Linked DNA regions of Homo sapiens. The protein of the gene in region 1 purifies or fractionates together with the protein of each later gene. This does not show direct contact. Each region holds a gene or a part of one and is shown on either strand. Other genes may lie near its edges. The genes, in order: CBX1, CHAMP1, POGZ and CHD4.

Region 1 (7,000 bases):
TGTTCATTAGTGCCTGGCACATAGTAGGCCGTTCAGATTGTTGATGAATGAATGATGAATAGGGGAGCTTTGAGATCCATTCTGAGAACTCAGCCAAATTAATGTGCATAGTAGTTTGCTTGTCCTGTGTCTGTGACATTTGGCAGAGTTAAGCTGTTGCTTTGCCATGTTTGTCTTAGCCTCAGTTAGTTTCTTTTTGTTTGTTTGTTTGTTTGTTTTTTGTTTTTTTAAGACAGAGTGTCGCTCTGTTGCCAGGCTGGAGTGCAGTGGTGGCATCATGGCTCACTGAAGCCTCAACCTCCTGGACACAAGCAGTCCTCCCACCACAGCCTCTTGAGTAGCTAGGACTACAGTCTCATGCCACCATGCATGGCTTCTTTTTTGTGGGGACAGTCTCTGTTGCCCAGAATGGTTAGCTTCAGTTTTGTACTCACTCTGGTACTAAATATAGAAAAGGTATACAGGCTGTGCAACTGGCCGTTTTAAATACCTCAGGCCTCAGATTCTGGGTTTTGTCAGCAAGCAAATAGCTTGAATATATCTGTTTTAAAAGAATCTTGAAAAATCTTCTGTGTCCTTTGTATTGACCTGAGCAATAATTTACCAGTAGCAATGTCTGTTGAAAAATTGAATAGCCTTTCCAAGGTTATTTGGAGAAGTTACTCAGATATGGACAAAATTTAGATCTTGTCAATATTTGCATAGAATAACTTGTATTAAATCTTTCCTGCCTTTAGCATTTATACTTTGATGACCAGAAGGGGGCAACCTAATTTGTCTGTGAAATTGTGCCTTTTAAAATAATAGTTGACACTTTGAGTGCGTAACAGAACTATGGTATTAATTTTTTTTTTTTTTTTTTGAGACAGAGTCTCGCTCTGTCGCCAAAGCTGGAGTGCAGTGGCGCGATCTCAGCTCACTGCAACCTCCGCCTCCCAGGTTCAAGCGATCCTCCTGCTTCAGCCTCCGGAGTAGCTGGGACTACCAGGGGGCCCCGACAACGCCCGGCTAATTTTTGTATTTTTAGTAGAGATGGGGGTCTTGCCATGTTGGCCAGGCTGGTGTTGAACTCCTGACCTCGGGTGATCTACCCTCCTCGGCCACCCAAAGTGTTGGGATTACAGGTGTGAGCCACTGCGCCCAGCCTATAGTATTAATTTTTAACTGACAAGAATGGTGTATCCTTATGGGGTACAATGTGGTGGCGTTTTTTTTTCTTTTTTTGAGACGGAGTTTCGCTCTTGTTGCCCAGGCTGGAGTGCAGTGGCGCAATCTCAGCTTACTGCAACCTCCGCCTCCTCGGTTCAAGTGATTCTCCTGCCTCAGGCCTCCTAAGTAGCTGGAATTACAGGCGCCTGCCACCACGCCTGGCTAATTTTTTGTATTTTTTTAGTAGAGATGGGGTTTCATCATGTTGGCCAGGTTGGTCTTCAACTCCTGACCTCAGGTGATCCACCCTCCTTGGCCTCCAAAGTGCAGAGATTACAGGCGTGAGCCACCACGCCCAACTTGTGGTGGGGGTTTTTGAACTTTTATTTTTCTCACATAAATAGAGGCAGGGACTCACTATGTTGCCCAGGCTAGTTTCGAACTCCTGGCCTCAAGTAATCTTCCCACCTCACCCTCCCAAAGTACTGGGATTACAGACATGAGCCACTGCACCTGGCCCACTGTGGTGGTTTTTGTTTTTCTTTTCTTTTTTTAGACAAGTCTTGCTCTGTCACCCAGGCTGGAGTGCAGTGGTGCACTCCACTCAGCTCACTGCAGCTTCCACCTCCCGGGTTCAAGTGATTCTCCTGCCTCAGCCTCCTGAGGAGCTAGGAATACAGGTGCACACCACCATGCCCAGCTAACTTTTTTTGTATTTTTAGTAGAGATGAGGTCTCACCATGTTGGCCAGGCTGGTCTTGAAATCCTGACCTCAAGTGATCCACCCACCTCAGCCTCTCAAAGTGCTGGGATTGCAGGTGTGAGCCACCATGCCTGGCCACTGTGGTGTTCTGATACGTTTCCAATGTAGTCATAATTCTGGTCTAGCTTTCTAACCACTTTTATTTTATCTTAAATTCACCTTTGAAAGATAGCTTGAGGTATCTCTGTGTCCATACTAACATTTGTAGACTCTTGTGGCCTCTCAACCCAAAAATCTGTGTCAAAATATCCATGTCAACATACTCAAGGGGTTTTCCAAGTTTCAGAACACATCTCAGATAAAATTCAAAATGTATTCGCACACCAGCATTCTAGCCTTTGATCCTCTGGAATTCAAGGGCTGGTGTTCCTTTAAAAATGAAACTCCTGACTGGGCGTGATGGCTCACGCCTATAATACCAGCACTATGGGAGGCCTAGATGGGTGGATCACCTCAGGTGGGAACTGAAGACCAGCCTGACCAACATGGAGAAACTCCGTCTCTACTAAAAATACACAATTAGCTGGGCGTGGTGGTGCATGCCTGTAATCCCAGTGACTCGGGAGGCTGAGGCAGGAGAACTGCTTGAACCTGGGAGGCGGAGGTTGCAGGGAGCCGAGATTGCACCACTGTACTCTAGCCTGGGTGAAAGAGCAAGACTCCATCTCCAAAAAAAAAAGAAACTCCTGCTAACTGTGTGTGGCATAAGTTCTTGTTTTCTGCTTAGTCAAGTTTTCCATCTGGAAAGCATTTGCTTCGCAAACAGCCACAGCTTACAGACTACAAGCAGTTTAGAAACAAGACTACCACCTGAATATACTACACATGCCTTCACCTGCCTTTTGATGATTGGTATGTAGTTGCTGATTCTTTCAACAAAAGGTACTTCTTTCTTGTTTTCTCTTTAGGGCTTATGGATCAGATTTATCTTGCTGCTTATTCCCTTAAAAGCTTATAGCTTTGGAATTCTATTCCCTGATGCTTCTGAGACAGTCATCCTCTTTTTTTTGAGATGGAGTTTTGTTCTTGTTGCCCAGGCTGGAGTGCAATGGTGCAATCTCAGCTCACCGCAACCTCAGCCTCCCAGGTAGCTGGGATTACAGGCGTGTACCACCATGCCCAGCTAATTTTGCATTTTTAGTAGAGATGGGGTTTCTCCATGTTGGTCAGGCTGGTCTCGAACTCCCAACCTCAGGAGATCTGCCTGCCTCAGCCTCCCAAAGTGCTGGGATTACAGGCGTGAGCCACCGCGCCCCACCTGAGACATCCATCTTTATTGTCCATATAGGGTTCAACAACTTGTTCAGGTTCCAGACCTACCTTTAATTGTATGTGCAAGTAAAAATAGAAACAGAATGCTTTGGGAACCCCAAAGAAAAGAGAAATATTATTTAGCTAGGTTGGGTAGGCTTCATGGAGAAAGTAGCATTTTTAAGCTGGGTCTTGAAGAATGGATAGGATTTTGACTGTTGGCCCTGTACAGGAGCACACTACTTTCTTTTTTCTTTCTTTTTTTTTTTGAGGCAGAGTCTTGCTCTGTCACTGAGGCTGGAGTGCAGTGTCAAGATCTTGGCTCACTGCAACCTCTGCCTGCCTGGTTCAAGTAATTCTTGTGCCCCACCCTCCCAAGTGGCTGGGATTACAGGCATGCACCACCACACCTGGCTAATTTTTGTATTCTTAGTAGATATGGGGTGTCACCATGTTGGCCAGGCTGGTCTTGAACTCCAGGCGTCAAGTGATCCACCCGCCTCGACTTCCCAAAGTACTGATTTATAGGTGTGAGCCACCAAGCCCAGTCAGGAGCACACTTTTTTTTTTTTTTTTTCCTTTGAGACAGAGTCTTGGTCCGTCACCCAGGCTGGAGTGCAGTGGCGCGATCTCAGCTCACTGCATCCTAACCCCGTTTTCCGGATTCAAGCAATTATCGTGCCTCAGCTTCTTGAGTAGCTGGGACTACAGGTGCGCCATGCTGGCTAATTTTTTTTTTGTATTTTTAGTAGACACGGGGTTTCACCATGTTGCTGGGCTGGTCTCAAACTCCTAGCCTGAAGGATCCACCCACCTCGGCCTCCCAAAGTGCTGAGATTACAGGTGTGGGCCACAGAGCCCAGCCCACACTTTTTTTTTTTGGAGACAGAGTCTTGTCCTGTATCCCAGGCTGGAGTGCAGTGGCACAATCTTGGTTCACTGCAGCCTTCACCTCCCAAGTTCAAGGAATTCTCCTGCTTTAGCCTCCTGACTATCTGGGATTACAGGTATGTGCCACCACACCTGGATGATTTTTGTATTTTTACTAGAGTTGGGGTTTCACCATCTTAGCCAGGCTGATCTTGAACTCCTGACCTCAAGTGATCCACCTGCCTTGGCCTCCCAATGTGCTGGGATTACAAGCATGAGCCACTGCGCCCTACCAAGCCCACACTTCTTTTTTTTTTTTTTTTTTTTTTTTGAGACAGAGTTTCACTCTTGATGCCCAGGCTGGAGTGCAGTGGCACGATCTTGGCGCATCGCAACTTCCGCCTCCCAGGTTGAAGCGATTCTCCTTCCTGAGCCTCTGGAGTAGCTGGGATTACAGGCATGCGCCACCACACCCAGCTCATTTTGTATTTTTAGTAGAGATGGGGTCATGTTGGTCAGGCTGGTCTCGAACTCCTGACCTCAGGTAATTCGCCTGCCTCAGCCTCCCATAGTGCTGGGATTACAGGCGTGAGTCACCATGCCGGGCCTAAGCCCACACTTCTTAATACTTAATAGATGAGCAAAGCTATGGAGGAAACATAGGATATGTTCAGGTTGTGGCCAGGTTATAGTCTTTGACAGGAATGTAGATTTTGTGAGGGAAGAAGGGACATAATTAGTCTGGAATAAGAACCGAAGAATATAAGTGTTACACTGACGACTTTGGCCTTTTGTTTTAAATGGGAGGAAACCTTGTAGAAAATATTTCCTATTCAGTCAGCTCCAGCCCAAACTGGTTTATATGTGTCACATTGCCTTTGTTTACAACAGTTCCTGAAGCCAAATTGCCCTACCAGTACACCTTTTCAAATGCTAGTAAAGCCTGGTTTCAAACTCAGCTTTTCAAAATGTTTACTGATGCCCTCGCCAGTTCTTCCTCCAACCTCCTATAGTGCGTTTATGGCTACTTTTTATTGCTTATACTGCTTTTGGTAATTATGTATGCTTGCCATTTCGGACTCTCACTTGAACTTGCATTGTTTACCTTTTTGTAAATTTTTTTCGAGACCTGTCTTCTGTGTCTTTTTTTTTTTTTTTTAATTTTATTTTTGAGACAGAGTCTCGCTCTATTGCCCAGGCTGGAATGCAGTGTCGTGATCTGGCCTCACTGCAACCTCTGCCTCCTGGGTTCAAGCAGTTCTCCCTGCTTTAGCCTCCCAAGTAGTTGGGTAGCTGGGATTACAGGCGCCTGCCATCATGCCCAACTAATTTGTTTCTTTCTTTTCTTTTCTTTTCTTTTTTTTTTTTTTTTTTTGAGACAGAGTTTTGCTCTTGCTGCCCAGGCTGGAGTGCAATGGTGTGATCTCGGCTCACTGCAACCTCTGCCTCCTGGGTTCAAGCGATTCTCCTGCCTCAGCCTCCCGAGTAGCTGGGATTACAGGCATGCGCCACCACGTCCGGCTCATTTTGTATTTTTAGTAGAGACTGGGTTTCTCCATGTTGGTCAGGCTAGTCTTAAACTCCTGACCTCAGGTGATCTGCCGACCTCGGCCTCCCAAAGTGCTGGGATTACAGGCCTGAGCCACCATGCCCGGCCTAATTAATTAATTAATCTTTTAGAGATAGAGTCTCGCAGCTGGGTGCGGTGGCTCACGCCTGCAATCTCAGCACTTTGGGAGTCTGAGGTAAGTGGATCACGAGGTCAGGAGTTCGAGACCAGCCTAGCAAAGATGGTGAAACCTTGTCTCTACTAAAAATAGAAAAATTAGCCAGGTGCAGCGGCGGGCACCTGTAATCCCAGTTACTCAGGAGGCTGAGGCAGGAGAATCCCTTGAACCCGGGAGGTGGAGGTTGTGAGCCAAGATAGCTGCACTCTAGCCTGGGCAACAGAGCAAGACTCCCTCTCAAAAAAAAAAAGAGAGAGAGAGAGAGATGGAGTCTTGCTGTGTTGCCCAGGCTGGTCTGAAACTCATGGCCTTAACCACTCCACAACCCTTGCCTTGGCCTCCTAAACTGCTGGGATTACAGGTGTGAGCCACAGTGCCTCGCTAATTTTATTTTTTTTTTAATAGATAGTATTAAAAGGTAGAAGATCTGGTCGGGCATGGTGGCTCAGTCCTGTAATCCCAGCACTTTGGGAGGGCGAGGCGGGCAGATTACCCGAGGTCAGGAGTTCGAGACCAGCCTGACCAACATGGAGAAACCCCATCTCTACTAAAAATACAAAAGTAGCTGGGCATGGTGGCGCATGCCTGTAATCCCAGCCACTCGGGAGGTTGAGGCAGGAGAATCACTTGAACCTGGGAGGCGAAGGTTGTGGTGAGTCAAGATGGCACCATTGTATTCCAGCCTGGGTGACAAGAGTGAAACTGCATCTCAAAAAAAAAAAAAAAAAAAAAAAAGATCTGGCTGGGCATGGTGGCTCACGCCTGTAACCTGAGTACTTTGAGTGGTCGAGGTGAGTGGATCACCTGAGGTCAGGAGTTCGAGACCAGCCTGGCCAACATGGTGAAACCCCCTCTCTACTAAAAATACAAAAATTAGGCCTGGTGTGGTGGCTCACGCCTGTAATGCCAGCACTTTGGGAGGCTGAGGCTGGTGGATCACCTGAGGTCAGGAGTTTGAGACCAGCCTGGCCAACATGGTAAAACCCCGTCTCTACTAAAAATTCAAAAAATTAGCTGGGCATGGTGGCGCGTGCTTGTAATTCCAGCTATTTGGTGGGGCTGAGACAGGAGAAGCACTTGAACCCTGGAGGCAGAAGTTGCGGTGAGCCAAGATCATGCCCCCGCATTCTAGCCTGGGCAAGAGTGAGACTCTGTCTCAAAAAAAAAAAAAAAAAAAAAAAAAGGGCATGGTGGCGGGCACCTGTAATCCCAGCTACTTGGGAGGCTGAGGCAGGAGAAT
Region 2 (7,485 bases), on another chromosome or scaffold:
TTTTTTTTTTCTTCAACCAGCAGAGCAGGTGACCATAGTTCTTGGGCAGCCTGCTTGAAACAAAGTGCCCTCTGCTGCTCTTTTCATGAAGAGTGTAGCAGGATTGATTGAGGCTGGCTTTGCACTTACACGGTAAACTGGCCATATGAGAACTTAGCTGCTCTGCCGGCCAGCACCAGGCTCCCAGTTGCCTTTCACTCGCTCACTGGCGCTCAACTAGCATTGATTGAGTGCCTGCAATGCAGCAGTCAGTGCCCATCTGCCACCCCTGGCAGCTGTGTGGACCTAGACTGCCCTTCAGCAAAGTCTGCTGCTCTGCCTGAGAGGAAAGGAAGAGCCCCATGCCCACCAGCAAAGGCTTCTGGGGCCTGGGCATCCTCTCCTCCCTCCAAAACTGGGGCTAGTGAATGGTTAAAAAAAAAAATTAAGAAAATATTAATGGACTTGATTCTAATTTTTATATTTGATTTTTATTTTTCAGTCCTATTTAAAAAAATGTCTAAAACTCGGAAATAAGGCAAAAAAGAGTGATTGCATGGCTGTGTCATGTCTGACAAGCTCCGATTATTTAACAGTTGACCCACATTTGTGCCCACACTGTGACATCACATGTTTCCTTACGGATTTTTGCCCAGTAGAGATGTGAGTGATTTCTATAACATGGCCTCAAAGGTGGCAGTTGTGCTTCCCTGTAGGATCCTAACCACTTTTGTTTCTAACTGGCCATTTGACTCCACTTTTTCTAGTGGCTGCACGTACTCAGCTTTATGAACCTTCTGAACTAGCTTCATCCTCCTCTGGATTCCCTCATGAATGAGTTAAATAAATCCTCTGAGATTGAGACCGTCCTGGCCAACATGGTGAAACCCTATCTCTACCAAAAATACAAAAATTAGCTGGGCGTGGTGGCAAGTGCCTGTAGTCCCAGCTACTCATGAGGCTGAGGCAGGAGAATCACTTGAACCCGGGAGGTGGAGGTTGCAGTGAGTAGAGATCGCACCACTGCACTCCAGCCTGCCGACAGAGCAAGACTCCGTCTCAAAAAAAAATACAAAATAAAATAAATCCTCTGATATGTGTTCACTTTATATTCGTGTGAGTCATGTGTTTAACTTTTGAGAACTATACTTTGACATTCCCCAAAGCCCAGCAACAGAGCTAGATACTCAGGAGGAATTCCATTTTATCATACTTCCCATTAAGTAACTTATTTTAGTTCCCATTATTTTGCATTATTATAAATTAAGTAGAAATAGCAGAATAATTTGTCCTTTTTTATTATAAAGTAGCTAAGTTGATTATATTAGATCTAAATTATAAGCTGGACTGCTTTTATTATTTCTCTTACAGGAAGCACTTAATAATTTATTTCTAATTTTTATTATGTTCCTTGTAATACATATTAATGCAGCAATTTGAATGGAAAAATTAAGTCTGACTTTCTGACAGAAAGCCAGTCTGATTTTGGCTGCTTCATTTGACAACATGATTCTGTGTAGGTTTTGAATATGTGCAGATACTCAGCACTGTTATTCTTTATACACAGAAGACAAATGACAAAGTCCAGTGCCATCTCAGCTAATGAGTTTGCAGCTCCTCAAAGGCTGTCAGGCTGCCACTTTCTACTGCAATTGTAGTTCACCTGCCTCTACCCATTCCCTGATTCAAGTCTGGTCCCTGGAACATAGTATAGGTTGAGAAAACATCAAAATAAACTGTTGAGAAGTATATGTTCAATAGATCCTTAAGTGAAATTTTGAAAGTCCATAAGGGTCTGGTTTTAGTACAGGATTTTATGAGAGTTATTTCTGCTTTCTTTGGTTACTTTAAAGTTTAGTGCAATATACTGGGAACCTTTCAAAAGGCCAAATTGGGAGTTTATTTGCATTATTCATCTTGAACTATTTAATATTCTATAACTACAATAGCTTTTTTAACATGATTTCAATTCAGAATAATAGCAGAGGGTGTTTTGGTTTTTGTTATTTCGTCACCAAGAGTTGCCTTCTGCTAGAGTTTTGTTCAGTGTTCAATTGGAATAGGTCTCTTGGGATCATCAACTCATTCTGACACTTCAGGAAAAAACAACTGAAGCAGCCATTCAAATTAGGTCCTGCAGCCACAACGAACCTGTTTCATATTAAGAGTCAGGATCTCAAAAAGTTCTCAATCAGTAAATCTTTGCTATTCAGAGAAAATAAAAGATCCTCTCATTTCTGCATTTAACATTTACAGTTTACAAACTGTTTTCATTGGCTCTTTTAAAAGCTTGTAACTAGGTGGATACTTTTTAAAGAAATCTATTAAATTTAATGAATCAATTTTGCTGCAAAAACAAAACTTAGAAAAATCCTAAAATATTTAATATTGATATTTGAATCCTAGAAATCAGAATCATTCCGGAAATTAACACAGGATCCTAAATTTTGCATGAAAGGGAGGTAGAGCCAGGCGCTGTGGCTCACGCCTGTAATCCCAGCACTTTGGGAGGCTGAGACGGGCGGATCACGAGGTCAGGAGATCGAGACCATCCTGGCTAACACGGTGAAACCCCGTCTCTACTAAAAAAATACAAAAAAATTAGCCGGGCGTGGTGGCGGGAGCCTGTAGTCCCAGCTACTCGGGAGACTGAGGCAGGAGAATGGCATGAACCCGGGAGGCGGAGCTTGCAGTAAGCCGAGATGGCGCCACTGCACTCTAGCCTGGGCGACAGAGCGAGACTCTGTCTCAAAAAAAAAAAAAAAAAAAAAAGAAAAGAAAAGAAAAGAAAAAAATGTAAACACAATATAGCAACTTTTGTGATACAGCAAAAGCAATGCTAAAGGGGGAGTTTATAGCTATAAATACATCAAAAACCAAGAAAATCTCAAATTAACAACCTAACTTTACAACTTAATGAACTATAAAAAGAAAAACTAAATCCAAAGCTGGCAAAAAGAAGGAAATAATAAAGATTAAAGCCAAGATAAATGAAATAGAAAATAGAAAACGATAGAGAAAATCAATGAAACCAAAAATTGGTTCTTTGAAAATGTCAAAGCATTATTCACAATATCTTGAATAGGGAAGCAAGCCAAGTGTCCATCAACAGGTGAGTGGATAAGCAAAATGTGGCATATCCATACAATGGGATAGTATTCAGTGTTAAAAAGGAAGGAAATTCCACAATGTGCTACAACATGGATGAACCTTGAGGATGTTCTGCTAAGTAAAATAAGTCAGTCACAAGACAAATACTGTATGATTCCACTCTTATGAGTAGTCAGACTCAGAGACACAGGAAGTAAGATGGTGACTGCCAGAAAGTAGAAGGTAGAGGGGAACCGAGAGTTAACATGTAATGCATAGTTTGTTTTTCAAGATGAAAGAGGTACAGAGATGGATGGTGGTGTTATGAATATACTTACCACCACTGAGCTGTACACGTAAAGATAGTTAAGACGGTAAATTCTATGGATTTTATTTTTATTTTTTTGAGACAGAGTCTCACTCTCTCCCCCAGGCTGGAGTGCAGTGGCGCGATCTCGCTGTAACCTCCGCCTCCCCGGTTCTATGGGATTCTCCTGCCTCAGCCTCCCTAGTAGCTGGGGTTACACGCGCCCGCCACCACGCCTGGCTAATATTGTATTTTTAGCAGAGACAAGGTTTCACCAGGTTGGACAGGCTGGTCTCGAACTCCTGACCTCAGATGATTCACCTGCCTAGGCCTCTCAAAGTGCTGGGATTACAAGCGTGAGCCACCGCGCCCGGCCATTCTATAGTTCATTTTCACCACAAAAACAAAAATGAAATTCACAACAAGCAAAACTTCAGAAGGGTACAAAGGTAGAGAGCAGTGTGAGCTAATTTTACAGTCTTTCAAAGCATACAGACTGATGGCATCAGCATTAGAGGTGCATGCATTTTAATTAGAATTGTGGTGGTAACATTCATAAAACTGAAAACAAAAAACGAAGAAGATAACTTCTGGGAATCGGGACTTTCAGTGGAGGCGGGGTGATGAGAAAAGGAATATTTACTGTCATCCAACAACTTTGTCTTGTACTTTTGTCATAGGTATTATGCCAGTAATATCCCTGAGAATGTATGGGGCAGGTCTAGCTCTTTTTTTCCTAATAAATTCATTCACACAACAATCAAAACAGCAAGAAAAGGAAGAGATATCCGCACGGCGGCGGCAGGCCGGGGCCGTTCCAAGGGCCTGGCCGGAGGCCACAGGCCAGACGCGGCGGAACCCTCCCGGAGCCGCGCCCGGGCGCGCGCGGGAAGCGGAGGCGGAGTGGGCACGTGCGGCACTTCCGGGGCGGGGCGGGCACGCAGCCCTTCCGAAGGCCCGCGCGAGCCGCTAGTTTTGCCCACGCACTTTTGGCACAGCCGCGCCACGCGATCGGCGATCTGATTGGCCCGCGCGGGAGGGCGCGCGGCGCCAAACTTGCTTCCCGTCAGCCCCCGCCCGTCCCGCGGGAGCGCGCACGCTCGCGCACCCGGATCCCGGCTCCTGCATCCAGTCGCCATTCGGGAGGCCGCTGCGCTGCAGGGCCTCGCGGAGCCGCCCGCGACCGCGAGCCGGGCCCTCCGCGCGGTCCATCGCCCACTGGACGCCGCCCGCGGCCGGACCGGTGAGGAGCGAGAGCGAGCGGGGGAGGGGCGTGGTTGGGGCCTGCATCCCCGAGCCCCGTGTCGGCCGCCGACCTGGCGGGGACGGTCCCGGGAAGCCGCGGGTCCGAGTGAAGGGGGCCTGCGCTGCCTCGCTTCCCACACGGCCCGAGGGAAGGGCCCGCCCCCACAGGCCGGGGCGGGAGTGCGTCTTTGTGCAGGGAGCGGGGAGGCCCGGTGTCAGTCGCTGCCGAGGCTGGAAACATTGCGTTTGAAACCATTGGGAAGTTGAGGGCGGCACAAGACGAAAGCCATTCTTTCTGTTTTAGTTCTAGACTGCCTCCTCTTCTGTCATTATTACTGTTTAAAAATCCGCTATACAGCCTCCAAAGTGGGAGAGGACATTTGTAAACCTGATAAAGAGTTAATGTCTAGAATACAAGAAGAGATGCAACTGACCAACAAAAAGCAACCCAGTTCAAGAATGGGCAAGGAATTTGAATAGATATTTCTCCAGAGAAGAGAGACAAATGGCCAATAAGCACGTGCAGTGATGCTCAACATCACTAACCATTAAGGAAATGCAGATGAAAACCACAATGAGATACCACCTCACACCTGTTAGGGTGGCTATTAAAAAAAAGGGAAATTATGAGTGTTGGGGATGTGGAGAAATTGAAGCTCGGGTGCATTGCTGGTGGGAAAGTAGGGTGGTGCAGCAGCTATGGAAATTGGTAGTCGTTCCTCAGTTCTAGGTTTATACCCCCAAAAATTGACAGCAGAGACTCAGATACTTGTTCACAAATGTTCATCGCAGCATTATTCAAAATCCAGATGTCTATCAACATGTGGATGAAAGGCAAGCTGTGGTATATACATATAATGAATGGACCATTGTTCATCTTTAGAAAGGAATGAAATTCTGATACATGCTGCAATATAAACGAACACATTATACAGTATAAACGAGCACATTGAACACATTATGTTGAGTGAAATAAGACACAAAAAAGACATACTGTATGATTCCCCCTCAGGCACAGAATTGAGATTACCAGCACTGAAAGTGGAGAGTGGAAGTTACTGTTTCATGGGTACAGAATTTCTGTTTGTGGTGAAGAAGTTCTGGAAGTGGATAGTGGTGATGTTTGCACAACGTTTTAGTACTAAACTAACTAAATTGTGCTTTTAAAAATGATTAAATGGCAAGTTTTGTTTTTTTTTTTTTTTTTGAGACGGGAGTTTCGCTCTCGTTGCCCAGGCTGGAGTGCAATGGCCCGACCTTGGCTCACTGCAACCTCCGCCCCCTGGGTTCAAGGGATTCTTTTGCCTCATTCTCCCAAGTAGCTGGCATTACAGGCGCTTGCCACCACACCTGGCTAATTTTGTATTTTTAGTAGAGATAGGGTTTCTCCATGTTGGTCAGGCTGGTTTCGAACTCCTGACCTCAGGTGATCCACCCGCCTCGGCCTTCCAAAGTGCTGAAATTACAGGCATGAACCACCATGTCCGGCCTAAATGGCAAGTTTTTTGTTTTTATTTTTGTTTTTGTTTTTTAATGAGCCAGAGTTTCACTTTTGTTGCCTGGGCTGGAGTGCAGTTATGCGATCTTGGCCCACTGCAGCCTCCGTCTCTCGGATTTAAGCGATTCTCCTGCCTCAGCCTCCCAAGTAGCTGGGATTACAGGCGCCTGCCACCACACCCGGCTAATTTTGTATTTTTAGTAGAGACGAGGTTTCTCCACGTTGGTTAGGCTGCTCTCTGACTTTCAACCTTAGGTGATCCGCCCACCTTGGCCTCCCAAAGTGCTGGGATTACAGGCGTGAGCCTGTGGTGGCGCGCGCCTGTAGTCCCAGCTACTGGGGAGGCTGAGGCAGGAGAATCGCTTGAACCTGGGAGGTGGAGATTGCAGTGAGCCGAGATTGCGCCATTACACTCCAGCCTGGGTGACAGAGCGAGACTCCCTCTCAAAAAAAAATAAATAAATAAAAATGACTCCTTGTGTAAACTATAGACTACTTAATAAATCAGTATTAGCTTATCATTGTAGCAGATATCTCACACTAATGCAAGATGTTAATACAGGTGAAGTATCCTTCATTCGAAATGCTTGGAACCAGAAGTGCTTTGGATTTTTTTTTTTTTTTTTGGATTTTGGAATAGTTGCATTGTACTTACTGGTTAAACATCCGTAATCTGAAATCTAAAATGCTCCTTTTGGCACTCAAAAAGTTTTGGATGTTGGAGCATAATCAGATTTCAGATTTTCAGATTAGGGATGCTCAGCCTGTAGTAGGAAAAACTGGGGACAAGAAGATAGGTGGGAATTCTTGTACATTCCCTTCAGTTTTTCTTCAAACATAAAACTACTTGGAAAATTAGTTTATTAATTTCTTTCTTTTTTGGGTTGGGGGTGAGTATGGAGTCTTACTCTGTTGCCCAGCTGGAGTGCAGTGGCTCAGTCTTGGGTCACTGCAACCTCCGTCTCCCGGGTTCAAGCGATTCTCCTGCCTCAGCCTCCCAGGTAGCTGGGATTATAGGTATGCACCACCACGCCCAGCTAATTTTTGTATTTTTAGTAGAGACAGGGTTTCACCATGTTGGCTGTTGGCCAGGCTGGTCACGAACTCCTGTCCTCAAATGATCCGCCTGCCTTGGCCTCCCAAAGTGTTGGGATTACAGGTGTGAGCCACTGCGCCCGCCCAGTTTATTAATTTCTTAAAGGCCAGGCATGGTAGCTCACACCTGTAATCCCAGCACTTTGAGAGGCCAAGGCAACAAGATCTCTGGAGGCCAGGAGTTCAGGACCAGCCTGGACAACATAGTGAGACCTCATCGCTACAGAAAAAAAAAATTAGCCAGATGTGGTGGCAGGTACCTATGGTCCCA
Region 3 (5,309 bases), on another chromosome or scaffold:
GAAATGCTGACTCTCAGCCCCGCCCTAGGCCTACTGAACCAGAATGTGAATTTTAATAGATCCTCAGTGACTTGTATGCATATTAAAGTTTAAGAAGCATGGTGACAGGAAAACTGGCTTAGGTTGAGATTAGGGTGCACTGAAGAAGTGTCTCTTTTGTTGGGGGCATTGTCACTGGCTGGTGATCTCTAGCTTAGCCAGCAGAACTCCGTAACTCATACCACTTCTTTGTCTTTCTCAGCAATCATGTTCCACGGAAGAGCCCCAAGTATTTGGCTTTGTTTAAAAATTCTGTGAGGTAAGAAAAAACTTATTGGCAGCATCTTAATTTTTCAGGTTTTTACATTAATTTTCAGGTTTTTCATTATTTGGAGAGGTGGTTATGTGAATTAATTTCAGAAAAAGGAGAAAGTGGGAGGGCATTCCTTTTCTTTCTTAAGCCTCAAAGCTTAATGGTCTCAAGTGTCACTGCTGTGTTTGTCTTACATAGTCTCAATTCTCTTTTTTAGTGGAATCAAGCTGGCCTGCACTTCATGTACCTTTGTTACCTCTGTGGGCGATGCTATGGCCAAGCATTTGGTATTCAACCCCTCTCACAGATCCAGCAGCATCCTGCCACGGGGTAAGTAGGAGAGAAGGGGATTAGTTGAGCAAGGGGAGGAAAAAAGATACAGGTTCGTACTGTATGCATCAGGAGCATACCTACTTGGCCTCACTCATTCACTGTTGAGATGTGCTGGACCTAATTAGAAACCTTCCGACCTGAAGTTTATATAAAACTGGGAAAGCTGGTCACTGCGAACAGCGTATTTGTATGTAGTAAGTTGAATCCCAGGGCACTGTCTTTGGAGGGCTTATTTTTTCACTGAGCTAACTATTTTTGTTGTTTCATTTTCCATAGGACTCACTTGGATAGCTCACTCAAGGTAACAAAAACTCACCTCACAATTTAATTTCTGGTTTGCAGTGTGTTTACTCTGTTATTATTATTATTATTATCATATTATTGTTTCAATTTCCTAGTTGAACTGAGATTTCTCCTCTTCTCTTTGCTCCTCACCCCTTTAGGCATGGCCAGACTCGTGACCGAGTGCATGACCGGAACGTGAAGAATATGTACCCTCCTCCTTCCTTCCCCACTAACAAAGCTGCCACTGTGAAATCTGCGGGGGCCACCCCAGCTGAGCCTGAAGAGCTACTAACTCCCTTAGCCCCAGCACTCCCATCACCAGCCTCAACTGCAACCCCACCACCAACCCCCACTCACCCGCAGGCTTTAGCCCTTCCACCGCTGGCTACAGAGGGAGCCGAATGTCTGAATGTTGATGATCAGGATGAAGGGAGCCCAGTCACCCAAGAACCTGAGCTAGCATCAGGTGGTGGTGGTAGTGGTGGAGTTGGCAAAAAGGAGCAGCTGTCTGTGAAGAAGCTTCGAGTAGTACTGTTTGCTCTATGCTGCAATACAGAACAGGCAGCTGAACACTTCCGAAATCCCCAGCGACGTATTCGCCGTTGGCTTCGACGTTTCCAGGCCTCCCAGGGGGAGAATCTAGAGGGCAAATATCTGAGCTTTGAGGCAGAAGAGAAACTGGCTGAGTGGGTGCTAACCCAGCGCGAACAACAGCTACCTGTAAATGAGGAGACCTTGTTCCAGAAGGCCACCAAAATAGGACGTTCTTTGGAAGGGGGGTTTAAGATCTCCTATGAGTGGGCTGTGCGTTTCATGCTGCGGCACCACCTGACTCCCCATGCCCGGCGAGCTGTGGCCCACACCCTACCTAAGGATGTAGCAGAGAATGCAGGACTCTTCATTGATTTTGTACAACGGCAGATTCACAACCAGGACTTACCCTTGTCTATGATTGTGGCTATTGATGAGATCTCTTTGTTCCTGGATACAGAGGTGCTGAGCAGTGATGATCGAAAGGAGAATGCCCTGCAGACAGTGGGCACAGGGGAACCTTGGTGTGATGTAGTCCTAGCCATTCTGGCAGATGGCACTGTCCTTCCCACCCTGGTTTTCTACAGAGGGCAGATGGATCAGCCTGCTAACATGCCAGACTCCATATTGCTAGAGGCAAAGGAGAGTGGCTACAGTGATGACGAGATCATGGAGCTGTGGTCAACTCGAGTGTGGCAGAAGCACACAGCTTGCCAGCGCAGCAAAGGCATGCTTGTGATGGACTGTCATCGCACTCACTTGTCAGAAGAGGTACTGGCTATGCTTAGTGCCTCTAGCACTTTGCCTGCAGTGGTCCCAGCAGGCTGTAGCTCCAAAATTCAGCCATTAGATGTATGCATCAAAAGAACTGTCAAGAACTTCCTGCATAAAAAATGGAAGGAACAGGCTCGGGAAATGGCAGATACTGCATGTGATTCTGATGTCCTGCTTCAGCTGGTGCTTGTCTGGCTGGGTGAAGTGCTAGGTGTCATTGGGGACTGTCCAGAGCTAGTTCAGCGCTCCTTCCTGGTGGCTAGTGTTCTGCCTGGCCCCGATGGCAACATTAACTCACCTACAAGAAATGCTGACATGCAGGAGGAGCTAATTGCCTCCCTAGAGGAGCAACTGAAGCTGAGTGGGGAACATTCTGAGTCTTCCACTCCACGACCCAGATCATCTCCTGAAGAGACAATTGAGCCTGAAAGTCTTCACCAGCTCTTTGAGGGTGAAAGTGAGACCGAGTCTTTCTATGGCTTTGAAGAAGCTGACCTAGATCTGATGGAGATTTGAGTGTTGGGGTCATGAGGGGGTGTGGAGTGAGGGTGGGAACATGTGAGGGAGGGTAAAGGGGCTTAGGGAAAAGGGGGCATACCAGGTGGGGTATTTGGTTTCTATTTTTTAATTTTATACCACCACTCCCCCCTGAAGTTGACTTACACTTCCCTGTGGATTTGTGGATTAATTAGGAAAACCAATAGTAATCACGTCTGAGCCAAGGAGCTGGCCCATTGGTCATTCACTTCTGCTAAAAACAGGTTTTTGTGACTTTTTTTTTTTTTAAATTTAAATCACTGTGTTTGGTATTTTTCTGACAAAATTAAGAAAAAGAAAAAAAATTATTTGTGGGCAAATGTTAAATTTTTTTGTTTCCCCTTTTACCTCAATTGTATCATAGTACTGGGTTTTTTTGTTTGTTTTATTGTGTGGCCAATGTCTTTGGGCATGATGCTATCTAATCATTGTTAATGTGAGAACATTTCTGAAGATGGGAAAGACAAATTATGTAGCTCACAAACTGGTTTATTATATATATGGATAAAAAACTTTTTTCATTGTGGTCTTAACACTTTTATATAAAAATGAAAATGGAAAAAAAGTCCCACTGAACTCTCTCTTCCTTCTCCTTTTCTTTCCTTCCCTCTCCAGAGATGTTGGTTTCTACAGCAACCCTAGATATAAAATTGTGGCTTTAAAAATGCATGAAACCACCTTTAATTATCCAGAATGAATAGATTTGTCTTTTCCTCACCACCTTCCCTCCAAAACATGACATAAACAATATTTTTTGCACTTGTGATCCTTGGCCCCTTTCCCCATTCTCAACACCATCCATCCCTCTGGACAAAGGATCATACAGGTGTTATTAGCAAGCAAGAGATACTGAAGCGATCAAACAGTTTTAGGGTGGAAGCCATTCCCAGTTTGAGTCTTCATCCTGTAAGCCCCCAGGGGCAGTCCCTGCTTTACTGAACTTCATCCTGTTAGATGGAGAGCATGCCTGTTTAAGGGATTACTGGTCCTACAGCCAGGAGCTAATTGTTCAAGAAGTGTTGAACTTTAAAAAGACAAGACCACTTGTTGAAATCCAGCGTGCTCTGTGGCTTTCCCCTATTTCTCTTAATACTTAGGGAAGAATCTGACAGGAAGAAGCGCACAGGGGTGTGCACAAAGAAAATGACATGAATCTTTATTTTTCACTGCCAGCTTCAAGGAAAGAAAATTTTTTCTACAATTTGCATGAGGGATTTTTTTAATTGTATGTACTCATGGTTGTAAACCAAAACGTACTGTACCGTACAGAGAAAAGGAGCAAAAAACCAAGTCTTCTGTTTATCCTGAGGCTTTCCACAATGTTCCCCTCCTGTGAGCCAAGGAGGCAAACTGCACAAGCTTGTAAATGGTTCGTCTTTAAAATGTACATAAGTGGAACATTTAATAAAATGAGGGGAAATGGATTTATAAACTTGTTTTTTTTCTAGGTGACCCTGTTTAATAGGCTTTCACAGACTGGGGAATGCTCAAGATGTGATGGGCCTGGTGGTACAGGTGTGACATTTGTTACCACCCATTTCTCCCACCCCACCCTGCTTTTTTGTTTGTTTGTTTTTTCATCCCCCAGCACACTATAATATAGTGAACTGGAAAAGTCCCTTCCAGAAACAGCTTGGCCAGCTTTGTGAACCTTTGACATCTGAAAACAACCAAGGATCCATCTGGGCTTCTCTTCCCCAGCTTTTTGCCTGATGCCATTTTATTGACAGACAATGGACTTTGAAGTCAGCCTTTGCCTTTGAGAAAGTTCAAGAACTATGGTTGGTCACGTCTATCTACAACCTAATCCTACTCTTTGGTAGTCTCTGCAGCAGCCACAGCCTTAGCAGAGCTGGGGTTCCTGTCTTCTGCACACGATTGACTTTCTTGATGGGTAATTTTTTTTAAGATTATACCAACAGTGGATCAGCTGGGTTTTGGCCAGGAAGTTGTCTTTGTGGACTCTGCCTGCATGGCTTAGTAGTAGAAGGAAATTTTTTTTTGGTTTTGTTTTTTATAATTCAGTTTAATCAATAAACATGTATTTATTGACTGTTTCCTGTGTTGAGACTGAATGTGTGGAGGTTTCAGATTGAAAGCTCATTGTTTGGCTTTACAAGTTTGTTGTTAACGGACAATGCAAATGGAGGGATGGTTTTATTTTTTCCTTCAGTTCTCACTGAATTTCTGTACTTTGAATTTGCTGCCTATATTTTCTTTCTCAAGAAGTTTGGAGAGGATTTGTGTCAGAATCGCCTACAGTGTTCATTTTAAAAATTCAAGCTGGGCATGATGGCTCATGCCAGTAATCCCAGCACTTGGGAGGCTGAGGCAGGAGGTTGCTTGAGCTCAGAAATTCAAGGCTGTAGTAGGCTATGATCATGCCACTGCACGCCAGCCTGGGCAACAGAATGAGACTTTTGTCTCTAAAATATTCAGGTTTAGAACCATTCCAGGGATGGCTGATGCCCCAGCTGACTTGAGGGCAACCTGATGCAGAATAGTTCTACTAGATTATTTTTAAAGTGGTATTTTAATGAAAATCACAGCCAACATT
Region 4 (7,038 bases), on another chromosome or scaffold:
CTCATTCCCTAGTATCTGTCTAGCTCAGGAAGTGGGGAGCCAGAGACATTTTAGGGCTAATTTTGGGGGTTAAGAGCTAAGAACATGTCAGGGATTGAAGGAGGGATATTATTTTCTTTTTTATTTTTGAGATGGGGTCTCACTCTGTCGCCAAGGTTGGAGTGCAGTGTGCGATCTTGGCTCACTGCAACCTCCGCCTCCCGGGCTCAAGCGATTCTCCTGCCTCAGCCTCCTGAGTAGCTGGGATTACAGGCACCCACCACCATGCCTGGCTAATTTTTGTTTTTTTAGTAGAGACAGGGTTTCACCATGTTGGCCAAGCTGGTTTCGAACTGACCTCAAATGATCTGCCCGCCTCAGCCTCCCAGAGTGCTGCGATTACAGGCATGAGCCATTGCACCCGATTGGGATATTCTCTTCTACCACTGTCTAGGTCCTGCTCTGTTTTTTTGTGCAGACATTCCCATATGTTGGATAGGAATCTGGGTGGGAGTGGTGAGGAAGCTGAGCTTCAGAGACTTCTTGTGGGCCTCCATTCCTCAAACTAAATCTTTTGGGTATCAGAAATTTGGGGAGAAGGTTGTATGCGCTGACCACAAGTCCACTGAGCCTTTGTTAAATCTCAGCTCTGATGATTGAAAAAATAATTATGATTGAGGGAGTGATCGAGTTCTTCTCTTAGTATTACCTTCATGTTTGTCTCGCTTTCCTTGGGTTTCCTTGCTTAGGATGTTAGGGTGGGCTCTTGTGAACTGTTGTCATCCCAGAGTAGGTGGCATTTGGACCTGGGGCCAGGTAATTTGGGGAGGCTTCTATGAGGGCAGTCTCCCCCCCCGCCACCCCACCTCTCTCAAACCCACCCCCTCCCCTGCCACTTCCTGTCTGTCCTATGTTGGCAGCTGGGTGCCCTGGGCTGGCTTCTGCGGTCAGGAGCCATTTTCCCTCTCCTCAGTGGGTGAGGCACTCCCTTCTTCTCTCCACTCCTTTCTCTACCCACCCCCCTTTGGGCGGGGGTGGCTTGGGAAGAGGGAGAGAGGAGGGAGGAGGGAGTCGGAGCCAGTGTGAATGTCTGTTACAAAGGAAGCTGCCTCCTGGTCTTCTCTGTGTCCCTTCCCACCTATCCTTGCCCAGGAGCTTTCAGTCTTACCCAGGCTTTGTGTGTGCCTCCAGCCAGGGGAGGAGGTGGAGCCAGATGGGAGGAGGCTTGCTGGGGGGCGGGTGTAGGGGAGATGGTGACAGCTGGGCTGATTCGGGCCCCTAGGGAGAAGAGGCTGCTGACCCAGGAGAAGCTGAGGAGGAACATTAGGGTTGGAGATGGGGAAAGGAAATTGTATTTTAGAAGTGGGCATGAGATTGAGCTGGCACCTGAACCTAGGACTTGGAGGTTCTGGTTAATTTGAGCAGTGATGACTTCAAAGTGGTTAGAGAAGGGTGTGGTTTCCGAGACCCCTGAACTGATCCTGTTCTGGGAAGGTATATTCTATAGTTTTTGCCTTCTGAGTAGGATCTTTCATTCTCATTCCCTGGTTTATAGAATAACTTGGTGGCCAGTTACAGGAGGCCTAAATCTAGTTCTCTTACTTGGTGAACTCTGAGCAGCTCAGTTCAGCTGTACTGGTGAACATCTAGAGGACTGGTAGGAACGGGAGAGAGGAGGCAGGGGTCTGGACAGCTGCCCGAGGTGGGCCTGGTCTGGCCTGGCAGGCCTATTTCGGGTATATACAGCTCTCTCTTTGTCTGTTTTTGTCCTGGGTATCAGCTTCCTCCTGTACAGAGTATAGCAGTTCTCTTCAGAGGAATCTGGGACAAGAGGTGGGGAATAAAGTCTAAAGCCTCTGGATTAGGGCCTAACCTTTTGCTATTGATCTTTTCCCTGCCTACCACTCTTTGCCAAATATATGTAGAAAATGAAGAGGACCCAGAAGAGGATTTGTCAGAAACAGAGACTCCAAAGCTCAAGAAGAAGAAAAAGCCTAAGAAACCTCGGGACCCTAAAATCCCTAAGAGCAAGCGCCAAAAAAAGGAGGTGAGTGGGTGACTGAATGTTACGGGGAATCAGAGGAAGAAGGGAGGAGCTCTGAGAAGGGTTGAAGGGCTGAGGGCATTTGTTTCTTTCTCAGAAGTGGTGGGCCATGTTCTGGGGATGAGCCTCAGGGCTGTCCTGAGGTCAGCATGTGTGTAGCATGTGTGTGTCTGTCTCCCTCTTCCCCCCTTGCCCTGCTCCAGCGTATGCTCTTATGCCGGCAGCTGGGGGACAGCTCTGGGGAGGGGCCAGAGTTTGTGGAGGAGGAGGAAGAGGTGGCTCTGCGCTCAGACAGTGAGGGCAGCGACTATACTCCTGGCAAGAAGAAGAAGAAGAAGCTTGGACCTAAGAAAGAGAAGAAGAGCAAATCCAAGCGGAAGGAGGAGGAGGAGGAGGAGGATGATGATGATGATTCAAAGGTGCCTGGACCTCCATCCTCTTCTTTGTACTGTTAAACTTTTGTCTTTTTGTTTCCTAGACACCTTACTGCCCTTTAGAACACTTTCTCTTCTTTTCCTCTTAACTCTGTTACTCTGATTTTTCCACACAAATTTGCTTAGCAAGTGTGGGCACTAGGTGGCAGGTACTTACTTGACTTTGCTCTTTCTGCAGGAGCCTAAATCATCTGCTCAGCTCCTGGAAGACTGGGGCATGGAAGACATTGACCACGTGTTCTCAGAGGAGGATTATCGAACCCTCACCAACTACAAGGCCTTCAGCCAGTTTGTCAGGTAAAACAGAAGGGGTTTGGGGAAGGGGGAGGAGAATCTTTCTGTTCTCTCTTCTTACTTCTCTTTCTTTTTTTATTCTTAAACCTTTCCCTCTGCTCTTGTGCATTTCTCCACCAGACCCCTCATTGCTGCCAAAAATCCCAAGATTGCTGTCTCCAAGATGATGATGGTTTTGGGTGCAAAATGGCGGGAGTTCAGTACCAATAACCCCTTCAAAGGCAGTTCTGGGGCATCAGTGGCAGCTGCGGCAGCAGCAGCGGTAGCTGTGGTGGAGAGCATGGTGACAGCCACTGAGGTTGCACCACCACCTCCCCCTGTGGAGGTGCCTATCCGCAAGGCCAAGACCAAGGAGGGCAAAGGTGAAATGGGGTTCAAATGGGAGTGGGGGTGTCTAGTGTGGGCTTAAGATGTCAAAGACAGCATGGGAATGCTGGTCTGTCAGCCCTAAGGTAGGAGATAGGAGGGAGGAATGAGTCTTGGATTTTGGAGGGAAATTTGGGAATCTGAATGTGGGGAAGCAAGCTTAGGTGGAGAAGATTTTATTTTCCCCATCTTTGGTCTTGTGGTATATATTTGGATATATCCTGATTTTAGGTCCCAATGCTCGGAGGAAGCCCAAGGGCAGCCCTCGTGTACCTGATGCCAAGAAGCCTAAACCCAAGAAAGTAGCTCCCCTGAAAATCAAGCTGGGAGGTTTTGGTTCCAAGCGTAAGAGATCCTCGGTGAGAGCCCAGCCCATCGCTTTAGGGAGGGTGCCATGTCTAATAGAAAGGATGTGACCTTCTATCAGAACCTGTCCTTCATAGTAGGCACGTAAGAATGTGGGGCGTTTCCCACAGAACAAGATGAGACTAGGCTCCCTGTATAACGGTGCTTGCTGGGATTCTGGTGTCCCCAGTGAGAGAGTACTCCCCTCTCTGCCACTCTGTCCTTCCCCTTGGCTTGAACGTCTAACCTTATTCTTTTTCATCCTGCCAGAGTGAGGATGATGACTTAGATGTGGAATCTGACTTCGATGATGCCAGTATCAATAGCTATTCTGTTTCTGATGGTTCCACCAGCCGTAGTAGCCGCAGCCGCAAGAAACTCCGAACCACTAAAAAGAAAAAGAAAGGTGTGTTTCTCTTCTGTATATTTGTGATGGGATGAGGTGGGAGTGATTGGGGAAGAATCTCCCTAAGGAGATAGGGGTCGGGGGGTGGGGGGAGGTAGTTTTTTTCCAATAACTGGGCTTTCCCTCTTCCTTGCCCAGGCGAGGAGGAGGTGACTGCTGTGGATGGTTATGAGACAGACCACCAGGACTATTGCGAGGTGTGCCAGCAAGGCGGTGAGATCATCCTGTGTGATACCTGTCCCCGTGCTTACCACATGGTCTGCCTGGATCCCGACATGGAGAAGGCTCCCGAGGGCAAGTGGAGCTGCCCACACTGCGTGAGTGTCTGGCCATTGTGGCCCCTTGGAACCCATGAGAAGAAGGGTGGGACAGTAAAGCTCTTCGGGGCCTGGATGGAAATGGAAATGCTGGTGCTGCGGGTTGTGAGCTTTGGGAAGCATTCAAAGGAATGATGGGCACTGGCTTCAGACTGCGGTGGGCGGGTGGGGGTAATAATCTGAATCTGTGGTCCTTTACTGCAGGAGAAGGAAGGCATCCAGTGGGAAGCTAAAGAGGACAATTCGGAGGGTGAGGAGATCCTGGAAGAGGTTGGGGGAGACCTCGAAGAGGAGGATGACCACCATATGGAATTCTGTCGGGTCTGCAAGGATGGTGGGGAACTGCTCTGCTGTGATACCTGTCCTTCTTCCTACCACATCCACTGCCTGAATCCCCCACTTCCAGAGATCCCCAACGGTGAATGGCTCTGTCCCCGTTGTACGGTGAGTGACTGATCTCAGCCGGGGCAAAAAATGGGAAAGTGTAGTCTTTTCTATGTAGGCTATTGTGAGGCTGGGGTGCAGGAGAGGAACTATGAGCTTTTCAGCCCTGAGAAAGGTATTCTCCTTCATCCTATAGTGTTGGGATACTTTTGTCCTGGGAAAATATAGGACTAACTTCAAACTGAGGAGTTGATGTTTTGCCAGCTCTCTTAAGAGGAGATGAAGCAATGTTCTTCTAGCTGAGAACATTTGTCCCTGTGTTGACACCCTGCCTCAGGGTCTTGGTAGCTTACAATGTTTTCAATTTTTTTGTTAAAAAAATTTTTTTTTTTGGAGACAGGGTCTCATTCTGTCATCCGGGCTAGAGTGCAGTGGTGCAGTCATAGCTCATTGCAGCCTCCAACTCTTGGGCTCAAGTGATCCTCCTATCTCAACCTCTTGCTGAGTAGCTAGGAGTACTGGTGCATGCCACCACATCCAGCTAATTAAAAAAAAAAAATCTCTGTTGAGACAGGGTCTCACTATGTTGCCCAGGCTGGTCTTGAATTCCTGGTCTGAAACCATTCTGCTCCCTTGTCCTCATTAAGTGCTGGCATTACAGGTGTTTACCACCATGCCAGCCAGTTTAGAATGTTTAATAGGGCCACTTACTGCTTTAGATTGCTTAAGGGAGGAATTCTGTGCTCTAAGTCTGTTGATTTCCTGATTGTTCTGGCTTATTGTTAAAGTCTAACTACTGGCTCTGTTAAGCAGATAGGAGTGATGGTGGCACGCAAATCCTGGACGATGTCCAGAAATGGAGAGGGAATTCTATTACAGGTTGAGCACCCTAATCCAAAAATGTGAAATCCAAAATACTTCTGGTCCCAAGCATTTCACATGAGGGGTCCTCAACCTGTATTTTCTCCCTGGAGGAGTCCTGGGATTAGATTTTATTTGAAATGAGATCTTTTTTTATTTTTTTGAGATGGAGTCTTGCTCTGTCCCCCAGGCTGGAGTGCAGTGGGGCAATCTTGGCTCACTGCAAGCTCTGCCTCCCAGGTTCAAGTGATTCTCCTGCCTCAGACTCCCAAGTAGCTGGGACTACAGGCGCATGCCACCACGCCCAGCTAATTTTTGTATTTTTAGTAGAGACGGGGTTTCACCATGTTAGCTAGGATGGTCTCGATCTCTTGACCTCGTGATCTGCCCGCCTCGGCCTCCCAAGGTGCTGGGATTTCAGGCATGAGCCACTGCTCCAGGTCTGAAATGAGATCTGAATCGTCCTTTGATGAAGTTGAGACTGTGGGCTGTCCCTTCTCCTCCCATGGTTATGATTTGAGATTAAGTTGTCTCTTTTTCTCTCAGTGTCCAGCTCTGAAGGGCAAAGTGCAGAAGATCCTAATCTGGAAGTGGGGTCAGCCACCATCTCCCACACCAGTGCCTCGGCCTCCAGATGCTGATCCCAACACGCCCTCCCCAAAGCCCTTGGAGGGGCGGCCAGAGCGGCAGTTCTTTGTGAAATGGCAAGGCATGTCTTACTGGCACTGCTCCTGGGTTTCTGAACTGCAGGTAAGTTTAGGATAGTCTGGAGATGTAGGGGCTACGATGAAGAGGATAGTGACAAAAGAGCCTTGTGGATAGAAGGAATGAACACAGCTTCTTGGTGGCTGATTTTCTCTTTCCGCTCAAAGCTGGAGCTGCACTGTCAGGTGATGTTCCGAAACTATCAGCGGAAGAATGATATGGATGAGCCACCTTCTGGGGACTTTGGTGGTGATGAAGAGAAAAGCCGAAAGCGAAAGAACAAGGACCCTAAATTTGCAGAGATGGAGGAACGCTTCTATCGCTATGGGATAAAACCCGAGTGGATGATGATCCACCGAATCCTCAACCACAGGTACCAGCTGAGCACACGGGAGACGGGCAGTCTCCGTGGGAGAGTCCTGCTAAAGAGATTGGGAAAATGGCTGTCACCAGTAACTTAGACTTGGAAGACACTGGTTTTTTTTGTTTGTTTTTTGTTTTTGAGACAGAGTCTCACTCTGTGCCCAGGCTGGAGTGCAGTGGCGTGATCTCGGCTCACTGCAACCTCTGCCTCCCAGATTCAAGTGATTATCCTGCCTCAGCCTCCTGAGAAGCTGGGACTACAGGCGCAAGCCACCATGCCCAGCTAATTTTTTGTATTTTTAGTAGAGACAGGGTTTTCATTCTGCTGGCCAGGCTGGTCTTGAACTCCTGACCTCAGGTGATCTGCCTGCCTTGGCCTCCCTAAGTGCTAGGATTAACAGGCGTGAGCCACCACGCTCAGCCTTATATATTTATTTTGAGACAAATTTTAGCTGTGTTGCCCAGGCTTGAGTGCAGTGTCGTGATCACTGCTCATAGCTGTCCCAAACTCCTGGGCTCAAGCAATCTGTCTGCTTCAGC

The links.
Region 2: the proteins of CBX1 (region 1) and CHAMP1 purify together in Homo sapiens (affinity purification with mass spectrometry; 6 studies listed by BioGRID and IntAct, with this or other methods). This does not show direct contact.
Region 3: the proteins of CBX1 (region 1) and POGZ purify together in Homo sapiens (affinity purification with mass spectrometry; 7 studies listed by BioGRID and IntAct, with this or other methods). This does not show direct contact.
Region 4: the proteins of CBX1 (region 1) and CHD4 purify together in Homo sapiens (affinity purification with mass spectrometry; 7 studies listed by BioGRID and IntAct, with this or other methods). This does not show direct contact.

Annotation. Positions count from the first base shown.
Region 1 is NC_000017.11:48,091,479-48,098,478, reverse strand, and holds part of CBX1 (chromobox protein homolog 1), read left to right. Parts: intron 1-7,000. UniProt on the Homo sapiens protein: Component of heterochromatin. Recognizes and binds histone H3 tails methylated at 'Lys-9', leading to epigenetic repression. Interaction with lamin B receptor (LBR) can contribute to the association of the heterochromatin with the inner nuclear membrane.
Region 2 is NC_000013.11:114,310,025-114,317,509, forward strand, and holds the start of CHAMP1 (chromosome alignment-maintaining phosphoprotein 1), read left to right. Parts: upstream 1-4,478; 5' UTR 4,479-4,619; intron 4,620-7,485. UniProt on the Homo sapiens protein: Required for proper alignment of chromosomes at metaphase and their accurate segregation during mitosis. Involved in the maintenance of spindle microtubules attachment to the kinetochore during sister chromatid biorientation.
Region 3 is NC_000001.11:151,402,224-151,407,532, reverse strand, and holds the end of POGZ (pogo transposable element with ZNF domain), read left to right. Parts: intron 1-241; coding exon 242-298; intron 299-509; coding exon 510-622; intron 623-901; coding exon 902-926; intron 927-1,068; coding exon 1,069-2,731; 3' UTR 2,732-4,809; downstream 4,810-5,309. UniProt on the Homo sapiens protein: Plays a role in mitotic cell cycle progression and is involved in kinetochore assembly and mitotic sister chromatid cohesion.
Region 4 is NC_000012.12:6,597,364-6,604,401, reverse strand, and holds part of CHD4 (chromodomain-helicase-DNA-binding protein 4), read left to right. Parts: intron 1-1,904; coding exon 1,905-2,026; intron 2,027-2,226; coding exon 2,227-2,442; intron 2,443-2,635; coding exon 2,636-2,754; intron 2,755-2,871; coding exon 2,872-3,113; intron 3,114-3,348; coding exon 3,349-3,476; intron 3,477-3,732; coding exon 3,733-3,868; intron 3,869-4,006; coding exon 4,007-4,185; intron 4,186-4,389; coding exon 4,390-4,629; intron 4,630-5,976; coding exon 5,977-6,180; intron 6,181-6,302; coding exon 6,303-6,508; intron 6,509-7,038. UniProt on the Homo sapiens protein: ATP-dependent chromatin-remodeling factor that binds and distorts nucleosomal DNA. Acts as a component of the histone deacetylase NuRD complex which participates in the remodeling of chromatin.